Homo sapiens: one gene and its partner. The protein of the gene in region 1 interacts with the protein of each later gene in a biochemical or structural test. Each region holds a gene or a part of one and is shown on either strand. Other genes may lie near its edges.

What was found. The genes of interacting proteins can lie anywhere in the genome.
Region 2: the proteins of USP9X (region 1) and ZBTB38 form a complex in vitro, tested with the Homo sapiens proteins (one study listed by BioGRID).

What each region holds. Positions count from the first base shown.
Region 1 is NC_000023.11:41,214,428-41,221,448, reverse strand, and holds part of USP9X (ubiquitin carboxyl-terminal hydrolase 9X), read right to left. Parts: intron 6,882-7,021; coding exon 6,740-6,881; intron 5,551-6,739; coding exon 4,797-5,550; intron 4,230-4,796; coding exon 4,106-4,229; intron 3,078-4,105; coding exon 2,852-3,077; intron 2,348-2,851; coding exon 2,218-2,347; intron 1-2,217.
Region 2 is NC_000003.12:141,364,089-141,371,514, reverse strand, and holds the start of ZBTB38 (zinc finger and BTB domain-containing protein 38), read right to left. Parts: upstream 3,012-7,426; 5' UTR 2,711-3,011; intron 1,644-2,710; 5' UTR 1,569-1,643; intron 1-1,568. UniProt on the Homo sapiens protein: Transcriptional regulator with bimodal DNA-binding specificity. Binds with a higher affinity to methylated CpG dinucleotides in the consensus sequence 5'-CGCG-3' but can also bind to E-box elements (5'-CACGTG-3').

The sequences.
Region 1 (7,021 bases):
GATGCACTTTGCATTTTCCCTATTATAGCTATTAACATATTTTATGGCAACTACATTATTTGCTTCTATATCCCATTAGACAATCTTATTTATTGCCATATTCCCAAAAACATAATAAAAACAGGTCCACAACCTCTTATCTGAAATCCTAAGATTCCAAAAGCTATTTTAATTTTTAATTTTTTTTAAGATGGAGTCTCGCTTTGTCTCCCAGGCTGGAGTGCAGTGGTGTGATCTCAGCTCACTGCAACCTCCGCCTTCTGGGTTCAAGCGATTCTTCTGCCTCAGCCTCCTGAGTAGCTGGGATTACACGCATGTGCCACCACGCCCGGCTAATTTTTGTATATTTAGTAGAGACGGGGTTTCACCATGTTGGTCAGGCTGGTCTTGAACTCCTGACCTTGTGATCTGCCTGCCTCGGCCTCCCAAAGTGCTGGGATTACAGACGTGAGCCACCGCGCCTGGCCCAAAAGCTATTATTATAACAAGTTTTTTTTTTTTTTTTGAGACGGAGTCTTGCCCTGTTGCCCAGGCTGGAGTGCAGTGGCGCGATCTTGGCTCATTGCAACCTCTGCCTCCCAGATTCAAGCCTCAGCCTCCCGAATAGCTGGGACTACAGATGCCCGCCACCACGCCCTGCTAATTTTTGTATTTTTAAGTAGAGATGGGGTTTCGCCATGTTTGCCAGGCTGGTCTTGAACTCCATACCTCAGGTGATCCGCCTGCCTCGGCCTCCCAAAGTGCTGGGATTACAGGCATGAGCCACCTCGCCCAGCCCAACAAAGTTTTTCATTAAGTTGCTGTCAAAATGTGGTTGGTGGGATAACCTAGCCCAAACTGACTAAAGGCTACTTATAGTCTTTATTTCTCCCTTCAGTATAAATATTCATATTTTACTGTAGAAATATTAATGTGTTCAATTGTAAGTTGTTGTCTCAGACCCTGCTATAGAGATGTTGGTATATGCACTGCCTTGCTTTTCTTAAATCCAAACAATTCTCAATCCCAATGCATATCTGATCTTAAGGACTTCATATTAAGGTTTACAGGCCCTACAGTATTTGTTTTCAGCAGGAAAATTTTACAAGTAGGTTACATTATGGAACAATGATGTGTGCTTTGTGAACAGGCAATATCTAAAAGAGTTGAACAGAATAGGATTCTTCTGAATGTCTAAATTTGGCATTTTTAAGTTTGAAATACAGATTCCACTTATGCTTGTCTGTGTAATAAATATTCTCTTTCTCATCTACAAATACCCAAATATCTGCAATTACGGAAAAGACAAGGGAAAAGAAGACAAACTAAATAGACAAATGAAAAGTACAATCTCCCTTATGTTAAAAGGGCCATGGATCCAATGGTGATTAAGTAAGATCACAGAAAAAAAACCTGAAACGACAGGTACGCCTGGATATAGAACTTCATTTTGGATATATGACTTTTTGGTTTGTTTGCTTTTTGGAGACAGGGTCTCATTCTGTTGCCCAGGCTGGAGTGCAGTGGTGCAATCACGGGTCACTGCAGCCTCAACCTCCTTAGCTCAAGTGATTCTCCCACCTCAGCCTCCCAAGTAGCTAGGACTACAGGCATATGCCACTACATCCAGCTAATTTTAAAATTTTATTTTGTAGAGATAGGGTCTCCCTATGGTGCCTAGGTTAGTCTCCTGGGCTCAAGCAATCCTCTTGCCTTGGCCTCCCAAAGTGCTGGGAGTACAGGCATAAGCCATTGTGCCCGGCCCCTAAATTAATATTTTAAGCGAGTATTTATATTATCCATAATTGTAGTTTACTTAAACAAAAACTTATGTACAGACCAAGTCTGCTATCTAAATTTGGTGAGTATCACAACCATTTGGGGACCCCTTTGAAAACATGGATTCCCTGACATTAGCTTTGGGGATGCTGATTCAATCAGTGTGAGAAGAGGCCTAGAAACCAGTATTTTCCAAAAGCAGCCAGATTTGGCACCACTGCATTAGGAGATTAAAAAAAAAAAAAAATCAAAACACAGATTCTGACCTGTGTCTACCACAAAGACACATGCATAAACAAAGTAAAAGGTGAAAGTGCCATGTTCAGATAAAATTCACAACAGGTTTTATGGGAAATTGTTTCTACTTCAGATCAGATTATATTTCATCACTTGACCTAAATGACTTCACAATTTAATATGATACATCAAAACAGAATTCTGAAAAACTTAAATTCTTACCTAAATTGGCATACATTACAAACAGGTTGAAATACTGCTGTAAATGACGCCCATGCTCTGAAACTTCCCTTCTCAAGAGATTTAGTACTGCTCTTAGTAAGTGATCACTCAAGCTTAAGTTGTCATAAGCCTGTAAAGGATAAAACATTACCTGTTTTACAGCAACAAGGTATATGTATACTTCTACTTGCATAAAAAGGACATGCACATATGCTGATACAGGCATACATTTATGGAAGGACTGATCACACAAACTAAACTATTTTGCTTCTTGGGAAAGGGAATGAAGATCAGAGGCGGATTTCATTATAATTTTTTACACTTGTAATTTTTTAAAAAAATCTAAGACTATTTAAAAAACCTTCAAAATAGGAAAAAATCTACTTAACAGTAAACTTATAATTAAGCTACTGCATGTAACCGAACAGAGAAAATTCTCTTACATTTTTAAAGAGCCAATAATTACTATTCATTGCCATGCAGTAATATTAAATGGAACTCACTGACATCATATTGTGTGTTTCTGTTAGGTAAACATATCAAGTGGATGCACATATGCTTGTGACTTCGACTTCCAGGAAACACAATTTATTTGTAAACATCTCATCATTTAGAAAGAAAGCTGTGCAATTACCTGACTAGAAGGTCCAGGAGAGGCAAAAGGTGAAGGACATGGCCCATCTTGCAAGGAAAAATGTGCAATAAAGACTATAAGTTTTGCAAACGCACCCCTCACTTCTGCACTAGGGCACTCCAGAAGGTATTCGGAGAAGCGATTTGAAACATTAAAAAGGACGTTATGAGCAAACCAAAAACGTACATTCTTGCTGTGACGAAGGAGAATACACAATGCATCATACCTAAAATAAAACAAAAAAACCTATGACTATTAAGTCAATAACTTGTTCTCTATAGTAAAAGGATGAGTCTCATTGAACCAAAAAAAAAAGACAAAGATCTTCCTCTACTGCTGGAGAGAACCAGCAAAGGTTGCTTCTAATATTAAAACAATAGATAAATACTATGACTTGGTCTATTCTCTCAGAGTTACCAAACAGGTGAAAGCTTGTCCTCTAAAAATCCATTAACAAACTCTTCCTAGATTCAATGACAAAATACCACCCCCTTATCTTGACATATTCCTGAAATGAGTAAGTAAAAATTATTAAATCAATGTATCATAATGGCCTCTATACTTTCACAATTAGAAACTTAAGAAAACCATTTTAATTTTTTACCCTTTTAATCGGTGTCAGAATTCAATCTAGGTAAGCTAAAACCTAATAAATTTCATAAGTAGCTTACACTTTTCAGTCTCATCTTGTAATCTTTGGTTTTGTTTGAGACAGGGTCTTGCTCTGCTGCCCAGGCTGGAGTGCAGTGGCACAGTCATGGCTCACTGCAGCTTCAACCTCCCAGGCTCCAGCGATCCTCCCACCTCAGCCTTCCGAGTAGCTGGGATTACAGGTGTGCGCCACCATACTTGGGTAATTTTTAAAATCTTCTTTGAAGAGATGGGGGTCTCACTATGTTGCCTAGGCTGGTCCTGAACTCCCGAGCTCAAGCAATCCTCCCACCCTGGCTTCCCAAAGTGCTGGCATTACAGGTGTGAGTCACTGTCCCCCAGTCTCAGCTTGTAGTCTTTGGTGCAGGGATGTCAAAGATATGATACAAGGTAATAGAAGCAGAAGTCAGCTTCTGAATAACAAAAGGCCATGTTTAGACTAAGTAACTATTTTAATATGATTTCTCTATTGTGACCCAGAGTTTTTATTCTATATTCCAAACTTCAAACAAAATTCTCTTGGTTTAGAAAAACATAAAGCAATCTATTAAAGAAGCAAACCAAACATTAGTATAATAGGAATGAAAATCCAAAGCAATGTACCAATCACTGGCAGAGCCACGGACTACTTTCTTTGTGTGAAATCCTGTAGTAAAGAGGAACCTAGCAGCAAGTTGAATACTGATCATAGTGATTTCTTCTGCTTCAGGCAACAGGTGATCTTGCCCTATAAATAAAATGCAGATATAAAAACACATTTTTATTTTCCAACCCCATTTTCAAACAAGTCTGTGTTTCCATTAATTTTGAGAAGTCCTAAATTTGTTAAGAACCCTTCTCAGGCTACTTTAATTTAGACCCATTTATTTTTTTATTTTATTTTTTTGAGATGGAGACTCACTGTCACCCAGGCTGGAGTGCAGTGGCCATCAATTTGGGTCACTGCAACCTCCACCTCCCAGGTTCAAGCGATTCTCCTGCCTCAGCCTCCGGAGTAGCTGGGACTACAGGGAGTAGCTGGGACTACAGGTGCATGCCACCATGCCTGGCTAATTTTTATATTTTTAGTAGAGATGGGGTTTCACCATGTTGGTCAGGCTGGTATTGAACTCTTGACCTCAGGTGATCCACCTACCTCGGCCTCCCAAAGTGCTGGGATTACAGGCGTGAACCACCACACCCAGCAAATTAGACTCATTTAAAGTGAAAACATTAATTTTATGAACTTAAACATGTTGACGCCTACTATAAATTATTCTTTATTACTAAGAAGCTAAACTCTCTTGATACTCACCGGGAGGAGGGTTTAAGTAAACGCCATTACATGTAAGCAGTTTTTTCATAAACTGAAAATACTCCATACTGTACTGCATTCGGTTATGCATGAATTGTACGTTCTGTTTCCGTACACTTCTCTCAATGGCTGATGGCATAATAATCTGATGAGGTCTGGTGGTGATAGCAAGCTCTGATATATATCTTATCAACTCATCATCTTGGTCTATTGTGTCCATTCGTTCATAAAAAAGTATATAAGCATTCCACCACCTTTTCTGGCGCCTGTATGACATACGCTTCATCATGTGATCAAACACTTCTCCCATGTACTCTCCACCAAAACACTGGTTTTTCATTTCTTCGTCATCATCCATTTTACATTCTGTTACATCACCATCATCAAATTTATACCAGCGATTTCTCTCACCATCTCCACCATTCCTTTGGATGATGTAAGAATAATAATGCCCCCCACTCGCTTGACCACTGTGTACGAGCACACCCACAAGTCTGTATTTTGTGCTTCCTGCTGTCTCACTTTCAGACTGCTCACTCTGTTGTATCAACTGACTCTCTGGGTTTACATTATCCCCTTCCAGCTTTGCGACACCTGCAACTGTGTAAGGTTCCATGTCCAGCTCTCGAGGAAATTCAAAATAATCATTGAACTTGATTGCACATTCTCTTTCCCAGTCATAGTCAAATCGCTTTAGTTGTATAGCAAGAACAGGAGGTAATTTTTTAATCAGCAAGCGCTTTACGGTATCAACCTAAAATAAACAAGACAAAGTTACCAGATGTTCTATTAAAATCCACAGGAAAAAAAAAAAAACCCCAAGCAAACTTTTAAATGATATTAAGACTTATCTGAATTTTTAAGTATAAACAAATACATGACAATGAGCATAATCAAGATAATCCTATCAGCTGATTTAAATGCTGAAATTAATAATATGCAAATGGTAAATTGTTGACTGGTTTCTGTCATTGTTATCTAGCCATTATTACCTGTTTGATGTTTACTGTTGTTCCCACGAAGGTGGTTTCCTATGCACAAACCAAAGAACTACAATAACAATAAGAGTAGCTAATATTTGTTGGGTAATTCAGATGCCAGGTAATATATACTAAGTGCCGCACAAGTAAAAACATACCGAATCCTTACAACCTTCTCAAGTGTGTACTACTGAACCTTAAAAGATGAAAACTAGTAATCACAGAGAGGTCAAGTAACTTGCCTCAGGTCTCAGGAGCTGCAGGTGGCAGGCAGTATGGCTTTACAGCCCACAATCTCAATCTTTAAACTTCAGGACTTCTCTAAGTGGTGCATAAGGCCAAAACAACACAAGTGACTTGAGGGTGAAAGGGTTTGGGAGCTCCCAAAGATACACCTTATTCATTACTATAATGCGTGTGAATCATCTCTCTCAAAGAACTGCTAATAAGTTTCCAAAATAAATGGTTTTATAACATAGGTGATAAAAGAAATCTTATGGGCCACTTGACTAGTCTAAAAGAAATCTTATGTGGTTCAATAAAGTAATTAATGGTTTCAGCAAATGTTTTGGTCTTGACAAGTAATCCTGGACATGACAGGAGAAATGTTTTCCTCTATCAGCTCTGTATCTTTGAGGGGTTCAATGGCAATTTGTTTCTCGGTAGAGATGGAAAGTGTCTGTGTAACTTATATAAGAGAATGTGCTATCACGTTATGACTTTTAAAATTATTCACTCTTATTTACCTATTTTTATCTTATTTACCTAGCCCCTTTGGCACTACTTTTTTTCCTTCCTTGCCAAACCTTCTATTAGTTATCATATTGACTACTTCTCTGCTACCACTATACCAAAGTAGGAGAAAATAAAAATAGGGTGACTTGTGAGGATGAACCAAAAAAACCAATTTCTTCTAAATCCATTAAATGTAATCAAAATTAAACAAAACTGGACAGCCCGTACCTTTTTATTGCATTTTTCACAATGATATGCATTTGCACCTTCTAGTAAATCTCCTTTGACATACTGTTCCAAAGAATCAAGAAGATTTTGGTGATTTCTAATGTCTACGTTTAGGGTCGTAAAAGATTCTTCACATTCGTACCTAAAAACGATTTAAAAAAAGGATTTATCCCTTAGTTTTGTAAACATTTTAGTTATGGACTTAATGTAAACTACATTTGCCTTTTTTTTTTAAATTATACTTTAAGTTCTAGGGTACATGTCCACAACGTGCAGGTTTGT
Region 2 (7,426 bases), on another chromosome or scaffold:
TACAAAAATTAGCCAGGCATGGTGACACATGCCTGTAGTCTCAGCTACTTGGGAGGATCGCTTGAGCCTGAGAAGTTGAGGCTGCAGTGAGCCATGATCGTGCCACTGCACTCCAGCCTGGGTGACAGAGTGAAACCCTGTCTCAAAGAAAAAAAAAGTTTCTCGGCTGGGCGCTATGGCTCATGTCTGTAATCTCAGCACTTTGGCAGGCCAAGGCCGGCAGATCACGAGGTCAAGAGATGGAGACCATCCTGGCCAACATGGTGAAACCCCATCTCTACTAAAAATACAAAAATTAGCTGGGTGTGGTGGTGCGTGCCTGCAGTCCCAGCTACTCAGGAGGCTGAGGCAGTAGAATCACTTGAACCTGGGAGGCAGAGGTTGCAGTGAACTGAGATCATGCCGATGCACTCCAGCCTGGCAACAGAGTGAGACTCTGCCTCAAAAAAAAAAAAAAAAAAAAAAAAAAGAAAGAAAGAAAAGAAAAGAAAAAACAGTTTAATAACTTGGTTTAAAGGTCTAACCTTCGGGAATTTTCACCCTGATCAAATGTCCCAAGACCTGGAGCAGATCCTGTAGGATACATTTCCAAAGCCTCCAGTAGCAGAGAAAACTACGAGCTAAGGAAGTCAAGAGCTTTCCTATAGACCACTGGGGCTCATAGTTGGGGGAGCAGAATTCTGTCACAATTCCAACTAATATGACTAGATCCAGGAAGAAGAGAAAGCCAGTATAGTCCTAGACCAAGAGGATCCTGAGAGGAAAAATAAGTAAAAGGAAATAAGGAAAATGTCCTTCATGGTTCACTGGCCATGGGCAACATGATGCTTAGGGTCATAATGGACAGAGGTGTTGAGAAATCTCATCCATTGCATCTTGCCCTCATGGCCAGATGTTACCTAAGAGTGTCAGTCAGGAAAACCTAAATGTGGATAATTGTTTACTTCTCCCACTGTTTCTATGCAACTTTATCCTTGAGTATCTCCAAGTTTCTTTTATGTGCTGTGCCAGAGAGAACTACCTCTTCTTCAGAAACCCCTCCAGAGCTGTCACTGCTAAGTGGCTGCTCCACCAAGGACTACATTTCCCAGACTCCTCTGTGGTTAGCTGTGGTCATGTGATGGAGTTTTAGCCAATGGAATGTGAGTAGAAGTAACACGCACCACTTCTAGGCAGAGCCCATAAAAAACTCCCATGTGCACTTTTTCATGCTCTTTTCTTACTGCACTGAGGAGTGGAGACACCCCTAGGCGACCTTGAAAACCACATGCTGCAGAAGGCAAAGCCCCTCTCTACCTGTGTCTCTGAATGAATGCATGAAAGACAGTTGCCCCACTGACCTGTACTGTTACATGAGCAAGAAATAAACTATTGTGTTTGAGCCATTATAGATTTGGGGTTCTATTATAACAATTAGCCTATCCTAATATCCTTTTTAATATAGCTGTAATCATTGTGTACAGAAATCTCTGTGCCCTTTCCCCTTTTCTTTGAATCTTACCACAAACTAAAAAAGGAGAATTGGGAGACTTAAATTTAAGTAGCTGTTGGGGACAAATGACACTTACCAAATTAGTGGTCACAACATTCAGATCTTAGAGCCAGAAGAACAGGACTACAGCAGAGCCTCACTTCAAGACAACCTAATATATTAAAGTAAAACAAAAAGTAAAACATAAGGCCTATAAAACAGATATTTTAGTGTGTGATAGTTAATTTCCAAAGGGAGTTGTCCATTTACAAAGGAATATGCCACTGTTTTCCAGTAAATGACAAGCTTCCTTACTGCCTTTAAAATGAGACTTACGCCTCCCCGCTCCCAGTCATTTTAACATAGAATTTCTGAAGAACAGATCTCCCCTGGTACGTCAGCTATACGAAGACTAGATGCTGACTCAGGGGATGACTTAGAAGCCGGGAAAATCAGGGTATGATTTCTATGCCTACGTGCTGTTCTCATGTATGTGTCAAAACTTTTCTCTTGGGAACTTAACTTTCTTGGGTAGGAACTTCCAGAGGTCGTGAAATTATAGGCTTTGTAAAGAACTATGAGTTTTTAGACAAAGTTAAAACAGACACATTGTGTCTTTGTGCTTAATATCATCCCAGATACGATGGCACAAGTAGGAATGAAAATAAGTCCTCTGTAAACAGGGCGATAAGATAATGGAGGTTCATACACAGAACAATCAGAAACGTGCTCAGTAAAGGCAGCACAATTATGTACATCTTTTTACCAGGGCTGTCATATTTTACCAGGTTAAGTGTGAAAATACCATTTGATGGCACAGGACACGTATTTGCCTAGAACAGGGTTTATTTTTATGTCTGATCGCTCAGTATAAGATCTAGGAAGCAAACAATCCAGAACTCTGAACAAACATTCTGACAGCCTGAAACGGAATACTCAGGTGAGGGGAGGAAGAGGAGGCAAAACAAGAGGGTTGACAGGGAAAGGCATCAGTTGGGCTGTTCTCCCCAGGGTTTCCGTCTTAGTATTGTTTTTTTTTTTTTTTTTTGCATTCTTTTCTGATCCTGTGGAGAGAGATATCAGATCCCTTTGGGGCCGTATTTAGAGGGTCTCCCAAATGCAGTCCCTACTCCCAACTCTGGGCTGGGGCTTGGCAAGCTGTAGGCGTCAGGGAACAAGATGGCGCCCTACGGTGAAGGGCGCTGAGTGAGGGGGGGCCAAAAGTGGGCCTTCACTTACTCGGAGGCGCTGGCTCCTCTGAAACCCAGACGCTGTCAACTCCCTGGGCCCAGGAGTCACAACCGCTTTCGTGCTCTGGGTTCTTCACTTCTTGTGATCAGCTCCACATATTTTTCTGATGATGTCACCCATTCTGACTTCCTACATTTTGAAAGTTGATCTACAAGTAAAATCTTTCGTGAGGCTTAAAAAAAAGAAGAAAAGAAATAAAAGGTGTGCTATAGGGAGATGGAGAGGAAGAGAAAGGCCGTTGCCTCTTTATTTTGAGATTTGCTGCAGCTGCGAGTGCCACTCCCCAACTAGTTTCCTGGCTTCAGAGGGAGGCCAGTGGCCGGGCGTGGGTGACGTCAGGGCCAGGCCTGAGTCATCGCCAGCAGCCCGGGCCGGGCTGCCCTGCCACTCGGAAGGGGACAAAAGGAACCTTTGATGTCCAGAGGCCCTCCTCTCAGCACACTCGCCGGCACAGACCAGCAGGCCAGGAGAACATTCCTGCCGTCTCCCCACCCCCAGCCGCCCTTCCTACTTCCGGAACAGCCCCAGACAGATTCAACAAGGCCTCCCCAAAGGACATCACCCTCCTGCATGGCAGAGGCATGGCCGTGCTCTGTCAGAGAAGCAGGGAAGAAGAAGAGGGTGTTTCCCTGGGGACCTCTCACTGCCCCTCTGCCATCCCCCTTCTTCTGTGTGGTGCCCACCTTACTCAAGGAGTTGCAGTGGTATTGAAAGAGATGCGGAAAGGTGGAAGGCACTTTTGTCACCATCCCCGGGCAGCTCCTGGTGGTCAGTGTCTATTCTCCTCTGCCTCTGTGCTGTGGCCCTGGGCTTCGCTCCCTACCCTGGGTGCCAACATGAACTAGCTCTTCCTGGATTTAAGACATGACCACTCTTTAAAGGGGATATTTATATCTCAGTGCCTGGCATGAGGCTTGGTAATTATATGATGAATTAAGGAATGATAATTGTAAAATAAAATAGTAGAGGACACATATTAAATACTTAGAGTGAACATTCAAGCCTCTGTGCTTTATGAAGATTATTTCATTTATTGGTATTATCACAACAAAAAAGCTGTGAGGTAGGTACTATTAATATTCCTAATGCTATAGAGAAAGAAATGGATGCTCAGAGAGGTTAAGACACTTCTCTAAAGCCTCACAGCTAGTTAGTTCATGGCAGAGCCTGGATCATCTAATCTCACATCCTGTTTTCTTAATCACGGTGCTGAGTGGCTGGAGTGAATGAAGGAATATTGACCAAGGGCAACCTGGCCAGGAGAAAAGAGACAAAGATGGGACTTGAAACCACATCCTACAAGGAAACAATGAAACAATTAGGAATGTTCTGGCAACATGGGCCTCATGCCTTCTTACTGCGTCAACACCAGGTCTGAGGTTTGGCAAGTGGGTGGCTTACTCAGCGTAGCCAGGAGGGCGAATCAGTCATCAGGTTCAAGTGGGGATGAGAAACTAGGGAGGTCGGATGGACGCAAGCCTGTGGCATGTGGTAGATGCAAAATCCGAGAGCCACGGGGTACAGAGTACCTCGGCGGGAGCCAGAGTCCACGCTTGTCTTTGTTGCCTTCTGGCCTCATGGATGTAGGTGGGAGGGTCAGTCCATCTGGGGTGGACAAGAAGGCTACAGGAAGAAGGACATGACGGCACTCTCAAAGATTCCAGACTCAGAAAGAGTTGGAACTGTGGTGTGGTTTTAGAGTGCAGGAGGAGTGAGAAGGGATTGGGAACAGATCTGGACCTGACAATGGTAGTTACTTTCTACTCTTAGCGCCCTCCTACCAGGAATCAGCTGCCTTTCTGGGCCTGAGGAAGAGTCCTGGCAATGGCTGTGGGCAAGCAAAGGCGAGGAGGGGTGGTGAGAAGAGAACATCTGCTTATCGGGGTATCTGGGCCCAGCATAAGAATGACCTACGAGGTAGCTTCTCCCTCTGTGGTTTATGATTCTGTGGTTTGTACTTTTCCATGATTCTCTTAGAGTAAATGTCTCATTCCAAGAGGAAGACAAAACCAGGAATTTCCAGCCCCTTGTGGAGGCCTCCTTGATAACACACCCACAGCTTTCCTTCCCACTGTGGGTGGGGTGTCAGGTCACAGAGACCACTCTCCCTGACTCAGGCAATCTATGCCTCTGATGCCTGGGACATTGTGTAGTTCTACCTTGTTCCTGGGAGCTCTGCCAGTTGCCACTCTGAGGAATTGCACTTGTTCCATGTAGTTTGAATCCCTAGGCAGGTGGAATTTATAGAGGTGAATTTCACAAGAGAGAAAGCTACATGCTTTTAATCAAGGGAGCAGCAGCAACTGATCAGGTTCACTGTCAGTGTCTGCACACAGCCTGATCTTGGGCTGAGGAAATCGCTTTAAGTTCCAGGCATTTTTGGCAGAAGACTTGTTTATTCTTTTCTTCCTTCTCTGCAGAAAATGCCTCTGGGCACCTCCCTGCTCTGTTTCCCCAAAGACTCAGTGGCCTTGCTTGCTTCATATACACAGGTATTTATTTCTCTAATAAGATGAACAGAGGCTGATTATTTCTTCACCCTGCATCCTATCAGGATAATGTGAACAGAAAAATAAAGAAAAGAAGCAGAAATGATCAGTAAGCTTAAGTGAGACACAGATTCTTGGGTTATATGCTCTGGGGTTGATACTAACAGTGAAAATAAAATCAGAGAACTGGGAAAAATATCCACTTGGAGATACAGAGAAGTAAGTACAATGGCACTTCCCTGGTCTCTACGTGAAGTGGAGCATCCTCCTCCTTTGCTACAACAAATGCAGTTAAATGCTGGTAATTAAAACCAAACCTTTATGAATGCAAGGAATTCCTTGGAAGACTTGTCTATACTTGTTGACTTAGATTTCTCTCATTTTATTCCCTCTCTTTAAAAAAAATTATTAAGGTATAATTTACATATCAGAAAGTTCACTCACTTAAAGTGTACAATTCAATGGGTTTTAGTGTATTTACAGAATTATGTAATTTGTAATCTATTTTTTTTTAACACTTTTTGTCACCACCCCAAAAAACACCATGCTTATTAGGTATCATTCTTCATTTGTCCCCACCTACCAGCCCTAGATGACCACTCATCTAGTTTCTGTCTCTATAGATTTTCCTCTTCTGGACATTTTCTACAAATGGAATCATACAATATATGGTTCAAATATTTGTCCTCTCCAAAACTCATGTTGAAATTTAATCTCCAATATGGCAGTACTGAGAGGTGGGGTCTTTCAGAGGTGGTTAATCCACTCATGGATTAATGGATTAATTGGTTAATGGATTAATGGGTTATCACAAGAGAGAGACTTGTGGCTTTATAAGAAGAGGAAGAGGGACCTGAGCTAGCACTCTCAGCCACCTTGCCATGTAATGTCCTGTGTCACCTTGGGACTTGGCAGAGAGTCCGCACCAGCAAGAAGGTCCTCACCAGATGTGATCCCTAGACTTTGGACTTCTCAGCCTTCATAACTGTAAGAAGTGAATTTCTTTTCTTTATAAATTACCCAGGTTCAAGTGTTCTGTTTAAGCAACAGCAAATGAACTAAGGCATAGAATACTTTAGTACTTCTTTCCTTTTTATGCCCAAATAATATTCCACTGTGTGGGTATACAACATTTTGTTTATCCAAATCTCAGTTGATGAACACTTGAGTTGTTTTCACTTTTTGGCTGTTATGAATAATGTTGCTATGAACATTCATGTGCAAGTTTTTTTTTTGTGGACATGCATTCATGTCTCTTGGGTAGACACAAAAGAGTGGGATTGCTGAGTGATATCGTACTATGTTTAACATTTTGAGAAACTATCAAACTGTTTTCCAAAGTGCTGCATCATTTTACATTCTCACTAGCAATTTATGAGGGTTCTGATTTCCCCACATCCTCACCAATGCTGTTATTGCCTGTCTTTTTTATTATAGCCATCCTAGTGGGTACAATGTGATATCTCATTGTGATTTTGAACTGCATTTAACAAATGACTAATGATGTTGAGTGTGTTTTCAGGAGCTTATTGGTCACTTGTATATCTTCTTTGGAGAACTGTCTATTCAAATCCTTTATCTTTCAAATTGGGCTTTTTTTTTTTTTTTTTTTTTTTTTTTTTTTTTTAGATGTAGTTTCCCTCTTATTGCCTCAGCTGGAGTGCAATGGCACAATCTCAGCTCACCACAACTTCCACCTCCCGGGTTCAAGCGATTCTCCTGCCTCAGCCTCCCGAGTAGCTGGGATTACAGGCATGTGCCACCACACCTGGCTTATTTTGTATTTTTAGTAGAGATGGAGTTTCTCTATGTTGGTCAGGCTGGTCTTGAACTCCCGACCTCAGGTGATCTCCCTGCCTCAGCCTCCCAAAGTGCTGGGATTACAGGTGTGAGCCACCTGGACTAAAATTTTTTTTTTAAAGTTTTCAGTTTTAGGGATTCTTTATATATCCCAGACACAAGTCCCTTATCAGATATATTTTACAATATTATCTCCCTGTCTATGGTTGTCATTTCATTTCTGGTTGGTGTTATTTGAAGCATAAAAATTTTTAATTTTGATGAAGTCCAACTGGTCTTGAACTCCCGACCTCAGGTGATCTGCCTGCCTCAGCCTCCCAAAGTGCTGGGATTACAGGCGTGAGCCACCACACTCGGCCTAATTTTTTTTTTTAAATTTTTGAGTTTTAGGGATTCTTTATATACCCCAGACAAA